Linked DNA regions of Homo sapiens. The protein of the gene in region 2 interacts with the protein of the main gene of each other region in a pairwise test. Each region holds a gene or a part of one and is shown on either strand. Other genes may lie near its edges. The genes, in order: RASSF1 and FXN.

Region 1 (3,814 bases), on a different chromosome or scaffold from region 2:
TCACCGCCAGGCCTCTCTGCAGATTGCAAGTTCACCTGCCACTACCGCTGCCGCGCGCTCGTCTGCCTGGACTGTTGCGGGCCCCGGGACCTGGGCTGGGAACCCGCGGTGGAGCGGGACACGAACGTGGTGAGCGCGGGGCCGAGGGCGTATGGGAAGGGCGAGGATGGGCAGGCCACAGTGCAGGCATTCTCGAGGGCTGCCTGGGTGCCGCGCGCAAGGAGCGTTCTAATTGCCGATTTCCCGGCGGCACAGAGAGGCTAATTCTGCGCGGGGGCTGGGAGGGGAGCCTGGATTGCCGGCTCCGCAAGTACTCCACCCGCTGCAAGCGGACCCGGGCCCAGGCTGACCCAGGCTCCGCGCACGCGCACTTCCCGCACCTTCCCGCCCTCGCCTCCGGCCAGAGGCCACTCTTGTGCGCTTGCCCGGACGCTGGCACCCGCCCCCGTTCCCTGTGGTAGGTGGGGTCTGTGAGTGGAGCTCCGGAGCGATGAGGTCATTCCTGGGGGCGAAGCGTGCGTGTCCCCGCCCCGGCGTTCCTGCCCCAATGAGACAAGAGCTAGATCCCGGCGATCTACGTTTCAGTCTTAACGGTTGCGGCGCGGCTCTGGCCCGGGCGCACGCGCACACTGACACGCGTACACGCACGCACGCGACCGGGGCGGTGGTTGGCGGCTACGGACGCGCAGGACTGGGGGACGGGCGGGTACGGCTATGGGCGAGGCGGAGGCGCCTTCTTTCGAAATGACCTGGAGCAGCACGACGAGCAGTGGCTACTGCAGCCAAGAGGACTCGGACTCGGAGCTCGAGCAGTACTTCACCGCGCGAACCTCGCTAGCTCGCAGGCCGCGCCGGGACCAGGTGGGAGCCAGGGGGTGCCGGCGGGCGGGAGGGGAAGCGGTCGCTGGAGCTCCGCCCTCCCCGGTCCGTTGCCGCGTCCTGGGTCGGTGGGCAGCCCCACCCTCCTGGCTACGTGGCTCCCCGCGGGTCCTGGCCGGGGACCTGCCCGCGGAACCGTGCGTAAGACCCCGATTCCACCGCCTAGATGCTGGGTGCCGGGGCCCCCTTGGTTTCTGTCACAGACAGGTTGAACACGGAAAAAGCAGCTGTATGGCTTGTGGTAGACCTGAGCCGGGCATTATCCAGCTATGACTAAAGCCGACCGAGCAGTTTGGACTAGCACCTCGATTTCCGCGTTCGAATGCTCCTGCTCCCTCCTTGGGGAGACTAGGGGAGGATGTGGAGAGGGAAGAGTCCTCGCCAGGAATTGAGAAGTATGTTTAGGAAAACTTGAGAGGCAGAGAGAGATCCTGCTCCTCCATCTGCACTCCTGTATGGAGCCAGCTGAGCCCTCACCTCTTCCCTGTTCTGGCCTGTCACCAGCTGCTGGAATGTGGAAGATTCTGTTCCCTTCCTCTAGGGTGGATCTGGAGAAAGATTTGGGAATAGATAGGAAAGAAGTCTTGTTTTGGACCATAAGCATTCAGGAGCACTTTACCCACAGGAAGGGGGAAAGCTAGATTATAAAATGCCTAAAGAGGTGGAAAAAGAGATCCAGGTTACTAACCCAGGACTGTAAGGTGTCTCGGAACCTCCTAGGTATCCCCATTATCGGAGAACTGTGTGCCAGATGCCATTGGTGTGACCACCAGGCTCAGAGAACCAGGCCTAGGCACCAGGAAAAAGAAACAGGGACTGTGAAGCTCAGTATGCCTGGCAGAAATGGGGCGGAAATCCTTATTTAAGTAAAGAAAGTGGAGTTGTGAGTGATGCTTCAGATAAAATTTTACAAAATTCCTTACAAAATGGGTGGTGCTCAGCACGCCAAAATCTTAGCCCAGAGCTTGGGTGCAAGGGTTGAGTTGAGTGTAGACCCCTGGGCTTGTCTTCATGTCAGTCAGTCCTGAGCCATTTTCCACTGTGGAAAGGTGGGAAAACCACAAGACACTAACCAATTGAAAAGGAGGGCTAGCCACGGAGGTGCACACCTGTAATCCCAGCTACTTGGGAGGGTGAGGCAGAAGGATCACTTGAACCTGGGAGGCAGAGGTTGCAGTGAGCCAAGATCGTGCCACTGCACTCCAGCCTGAGTGACAGAGTGAGACTCTGTCTCAAAAATAGAAAAGGAAGCCAAGTACGGTGGCTCACACCTCTAATGCCAATGCTTTGGGAGGCCAAGGCAGGTGGATCATTTGCAATCAGGAATTCGAGGTCAGCCTGGCCAACATGGTGAAACCCTATCTCTACTAAACATACAAAAATTAGCCGGGCATGGTGGTGTGTGACTGTAGTCCCAGCTACTTGGGAGACTGAATCACTTCAACCGGGAGGCAAAGGTTGCAGTGAGCCAAGATCGTGCCACTGCACTCCAACCTGGGTGACAGGGTGAGGCTCTGTCTCAAAAAAAAGAAAGAAGGCTGGGCTTGGTGACTCATGCCTGTAATCTCAGCATTTTGGGAGGCCAAGGCAGGCAGATCACTTGAGGCCAAGAGTTCGAGACCTGCCAGGCCAACATAGCAAAACCCCGTCTGTACTGAAAATACAAAAAAATTATCTGGCCATGGTGGTGTGTGCCTGTAATCCCAGCTACTGGGGAGGCTGAGGCAGGAGTATCACTTGAACCCAGAAGACAGAGGTTGCAGTGAGTCGAGACTGGGCCACTGCATTCCAGCCTGGATGAGAGAGCAAGACTCTGTCTCAAAAAAAAAAAAAAAAAAAAAGAAAGAATAGGAGGCTGAGAAGTCCCAAGTTATATGTTAAAAAAAAAGAAAAAAACATCAGTTTTAGGCCAGGTGCAGTGGCTCACACCTTTAATCCCAGCACTTTGGAAAGCCGAGGTGGGTGGATCATGAGGTCAGGAGTTCAAGACCAGCCTGGCCAAAATGGTGAAACCCCGTCTCGACTAAAAATACAAAAAATTAGCCAGTTGTGGTGGCAGGCACCTGTAATCCCAGCTACTTGGGAGGCTGAAGCAGAGAATTGCTTGAACCCAGGAGGCAGAGATTGCAATGAGCCAAGATCGCACCACTGCACTCCAGCCTGGAAAACAGAGCGAGACTCTGTCTCAAAAAAAAAACCATCAGTTTTTATGGACAGTGGTAGAGTGGAGGGTGGGTCCCTATGGTGCAGAAGGGAAATTCCATGGTCCTGCTGTGCATCCGACTGGGATGGCTGTTGAAATCCTCTTCCAGCAGGCAGCTTTGGAAACAGAAAAAGAAACTCTTCCTCCTTTAGAATCCTGGAAGGGCTGTGCAGTGCCTCTAATCCAAGTCTGTTTTCTGAGTGAAGATAGGGAGGTTCATCACCAGAAGGGAAGGGGCTGGAAATGAGGTCACTGCATCCCAGCCCAGGGCTCCTGGGTCATCCAGGAAGGGAAGAAGGAGCAAGCTTTCTCATTGTTAGGTAGGAGCTCAGAGCCATCACAAGAACAAGTTAGCACCATCCCTGTGCCCTCCCTGTTCTGCAAACAAAATGATCTTCCTTCTTGCCCTGGCACTAGAGTCTGTCTGGCATTTCTCCTGCCCCTAGTACTCCTCCCATCTGGGTACTTCTTCCCGTTGGTGTACTGAACAAACACATCCACTGCTTTATTCACAGCCTCCAGCCCTCATTTTCCAGGGCCCACACCATTTGTTTTTACTAACCCGACAAGGTTGCCCACTGTCCCCAGTAAGGTTTGTACTGGGGTTTTTACTCCAGTGCTCTTCTCCATCCAGGAGACCTTTGGATACTTGGGGAAGAAAATGAGCTTAAATTCCCACCCCTCCCCCTTTACCTTTTTCCTGTAAGGCCCTGGCCTTAGTTCTTAGCCCCA
Region 2 (3,814 bases):
CAATAGGGAATTAGAACTAGCCTGTTAGGTTGCTTGACAGGACCACTGAATGCTGGGAATCAACCATACTCTATTCTCTCATTTAACAGATGGGGAAGCAGAGGTCCAGGGAATTTGGGAAACTTGTCCACAAAGGGACAACTACTTTGTGGCTGAACTATGTCTAGGACCAGGGCTCTCTTTATCAACATGAGTATCTCCTTCCTTTATCTGCCCCTTCATGTTTACAAGGCACCTCCTCAGCTCCATGATTTTGTTTGTTACGCTACATCACTCAGCTCATGAAAACGGCTTTTTTTCCTCTTTTCTTGTCTTTGGAAGATTTTTTGCATTCTTGTAGCAGCTGATTCCATACTAACCTTTAAATTGAAAAAATATATATACACACAGACACGTATGTGAATATGTGGGAGAAACAGCACTAGGTCTCCCTGGACAACCCAGTGCAGGCCACACCTTGGCAGTCACAGAGCACAAATAAGAAATGATCTTCCCGTGTGAGTTGCTTTCGACACTTCAATGCTAAAGAGCTCAGAAGTGCTTACACTTTGAAAGAAGCCTGAAAACATTTGTAGGCTACCCTTTAATGTGTCTCATTTGGAGATAGAACAGTGAGCAGGTTGACCAGCTGCTCTTCATGTACTTCTTGCAGTAAATCCTTCAAAGAATGAAGAGTGAAGACAATTCATTTTCCCTCCTGGAATTTTTCCTTCTTATTATTTTGCTTTTTTAAAGGTTGTTATATTCAGGTATAGGCATAAGACATTATAAAAGATAAGGGGTATCATGTGAGGGAGGAAATCCGACAATCCAAAAAATCTTCCATAGAAATTAAAAATCAGAACTTGGGGGCAAGGTAGGAGGCAACACATTCTTTCTACAGAGCTGTGACACATAGCCCAACTGTCCTCAAAAGCAGGAATAAAAAAAATAAACAACAACAACAACAAAAAACAGACCTCAGCTGCATAATGAAGCTGGGGTCTTGGCCTGATAGCTTTTAATGTCCTTAAAACGGGGCTGGGCATCAAGCATCTTTTCCGGAATAGGCCAAGGAAGACAAGTCCAGTTTGGTTTTTAAGGCTTTAGTGAGCTCTGCGGCCAGCAGCTCATGGAGGGACACGCCGTCGTGGGAGTACACCCAGTTTTTCCCAGTCCAGTCATAACGCTTAGGTCCACTGGAAGACAAAACAAATGCATAGTAATTCCACAGCACAGCCCTTCAGATGAACCACTGATTCCACAAATGCTGCCCCCAAGAAATTGACTGGAGTAAAGCTCTAGAAAATAACACAAAATGAGCTAGTGTATATCTGCCTTCTTATCTTAGCATCTAAGAAGAGTTATACGATATATCTTCTGGAACAATTCCAAGAATGATTCTCAAAACCTGAAAAAACATTTGACCCTTACTGATAAGTCTCCAGGTATCACACTTTGATCTCCAGCTTTTGCTACCTCACATGTGATACCTGCTATGCTGGAGCAGTGTTTTAAAAATTAGGGCCATTTTTGTGCTACAGATGTAACTTGTGCCTTACCTATAATATTATTAGTTGTTAAGGTGAAATTCACATAACACATTAACCATTTAAAAATGAATAATTTGGTGGCATTTAGTACATTTACAATGTTGTGCAACCACTACCTCTGCCTAGCTTCAAAACATCTGCATCACCCCAAAAGGAGACCCAGTGCTGTTGTTCCTTGGTATCCATAGGGAAGGGGTTCCAGGATCTGCAGATACCAAAATCCGTGGGTACTCAAGTCCCTGATATGAAATGGTACGATACATGCATCTAACCTAGGCACATCCTTCTGTATGCTTTAAGTCATCTCCAGATTACTTATAATGCCTAGTACAATGTAAATGCTGTTAATAGTTGTTATATTGGTTTTTATTTGTATCATTTTTGTTTTGTTTTTTATTTTCAAATATTTTGATCCACGGTTGGTTGAATCAGATGTGGAACCCACAGATACACAAGGCCAACTATACCCATTAAACAGTTATTCCCCATTCCTTCCTCTCCTAGCACCCCAGCAATCACCTAAACTATTATTTTTAAAACATATTTTTCTTAATTCAGTGTTAAATTCATGACATTGAGAGCCTGGTGGGCTAGTTCATCCACCTCAAGCTCATCCAGTGAATAATGGCACATGCACGTTGCTTTGGGAATGCTGTATTCGTGTGGACAGATCGGAGGCTGGCTTCTGCCATGTCTTCTTATACCAGATGTACATTCCACTTCCTCATGGCCTCATGGATGATTGGCCACGGCAGCAGATAACACTAGTGCATGTGGCACCCTGATGGAGGTAAGAACAGAGTGCATGGGAGCCCAGAAGAAAGGGCACCTGAGTCTGCCTGAGCACTCAAGGAGGGCTTTTCCAAAGACTGAGGCTAGGATGAGGTCACCAGGAAGGGAAGCTTGGGCAATAAAAGTATCAAGGATTCCTGCATTATCAACCAAATGCTGGGGCTTGAACCTGTTCCCAGTATGGAGATAAAAATGAGTGAACCAAACCATCAGGGTCACAGGAAAAGGACTAATAAACCACACCAAGCCCAAGGACCGTCCCCTTGGCCCTATACTCTGATACTGCTATCGGGTTGCCAGGCAGAGCCTGAGTAACCTCTAGACCCCTCCACACTGCCTGAGGTGCTCTGAGCACAGGCACTGATGCCCACGTGTCCCTAGAATTCTCCTTTATTCTGCAACCTCCTCAGGGTGCGCAAGGTGGGAGGTAAGACTGCTGATTTCACAGGACCTGAAAACTTGTCAAATTAAAAAAAACAAACAAACAAAAAAAACAGGCTGCTGCAGTGGCTCACACCCATAACCCCAGCACTTTGGGAGGCTGATGTGGGAGGATTGCTTGAAGCCACGAGTTTCAGACCAACCTAGGCAACAAAGTGAGACCCCATGTTGACAAAAAAAATTATTTTTAATTAAAAATAAATAAAATTAAGAAAAAAAAAACAAAACAAAAATCAGAAATGCAGCCAGATGAAAGATATTTTGAACCAATGTGAAAGGCTGAGAGAAAAAAAAACAAAATTTTTTTTATATTAAACAACCTTTATTTGAAAAATAGTGCCTTACCATCCTAATGCTATCAATCAAACTTCAATAAGAGCAACTGCAGCATCAACCAATAACAGTTGCTAAATTAACAAGAGATCAGTCAAAAGTGCTTTAAAGGCAGCAGCACTGGCTGGTGTTTCCCTGAGCCTCTGGGCATTCAGGACCCAGGTACAGGGAAAACAGAATCAAACCAGCTGGTGTTCTGCATCCAAGCCCTCGCATCGTTACCTGCCTCCCTCCTGGTGGCCCTGGTGGCCCATGGTCCCCCTAGCACTTCTGAGCCCCTGTCAGCTGTGGGCGGGGCGCCAGGAGCCACAGGCCACTTGTAAAAGGTTGGAACTTGGTCTCATGGTCAGCTGGTTTCTTCCCATTGTGGTCATTTTCTTTTTGGAGTGCCTGGAGCACTCTCTCAATGGACACGGCGGCCCTCCAGCCTTCCTGGGCCGTTTTCTTTCTTTTTTTTTTTTTTGAGATGGGGTCTCACTGTGTCACCCAGGCTGGAGTGCAGTGGTGTGATCTCAGCTCACTGCAACCTCTGCCCCACAGACTCAGGCAATCCTTCCACCTCAGCCTCCTGAGTAGCTGGGACCACAGGCATGCATCACCACACCCGGCTAATTTTTGTATTTTTGGTAGAGACGGGGTTTCACCATGTTGCCCAGGCTGGTCTGGAACTCCTGAGCTCAAGCCATCTGCCTGCGTCAGCTTCCCAAAGTGCTAGG

Evidence for each region.
Region 1: the proteins of FXN (region 2) and RASSF1 interact in binary tests that used the Homo sapiens proteins (3 or more experiments, as listed by UniProt).

The regions. Positions count from the first base shown.
Region 1 is NC_000003.12:50,334,220-50,338,033, reverse strand, and holds part of RASSF1 (ras association domain-containing protein 1), read left to right. Parts: exon of another isoform or gene 1-10; coding exon of another isoform or gene 11-22; coding exon 23-129; exon of another isoform or gene 130-523; intron 524-583; exon of another isoform or gene 584-714; coding exon of another isoform or gene 715-861; intron 862-902; exon of another isoform or gene 903-1,274; intron 1,275-3,814. UniProt on the Homo sapiens protein: Potential tumor suppressor. Required for death receptor-dependent apoptosis. Mediates activation of STK3/MST2 and STK4/MST1 during Fas-induced apoptosis by preventing their dephosphorylation.
Region 2 is NC_000009.12:69,069,976-69,073,789, reverse strand, and holds part of FXN (frataxin, mitochondrial isoform 1 preproprotein), read right to left. Parts: intron 1,179-3,814; coding exon 1,028-1,178; 3' UTR 1-1,027.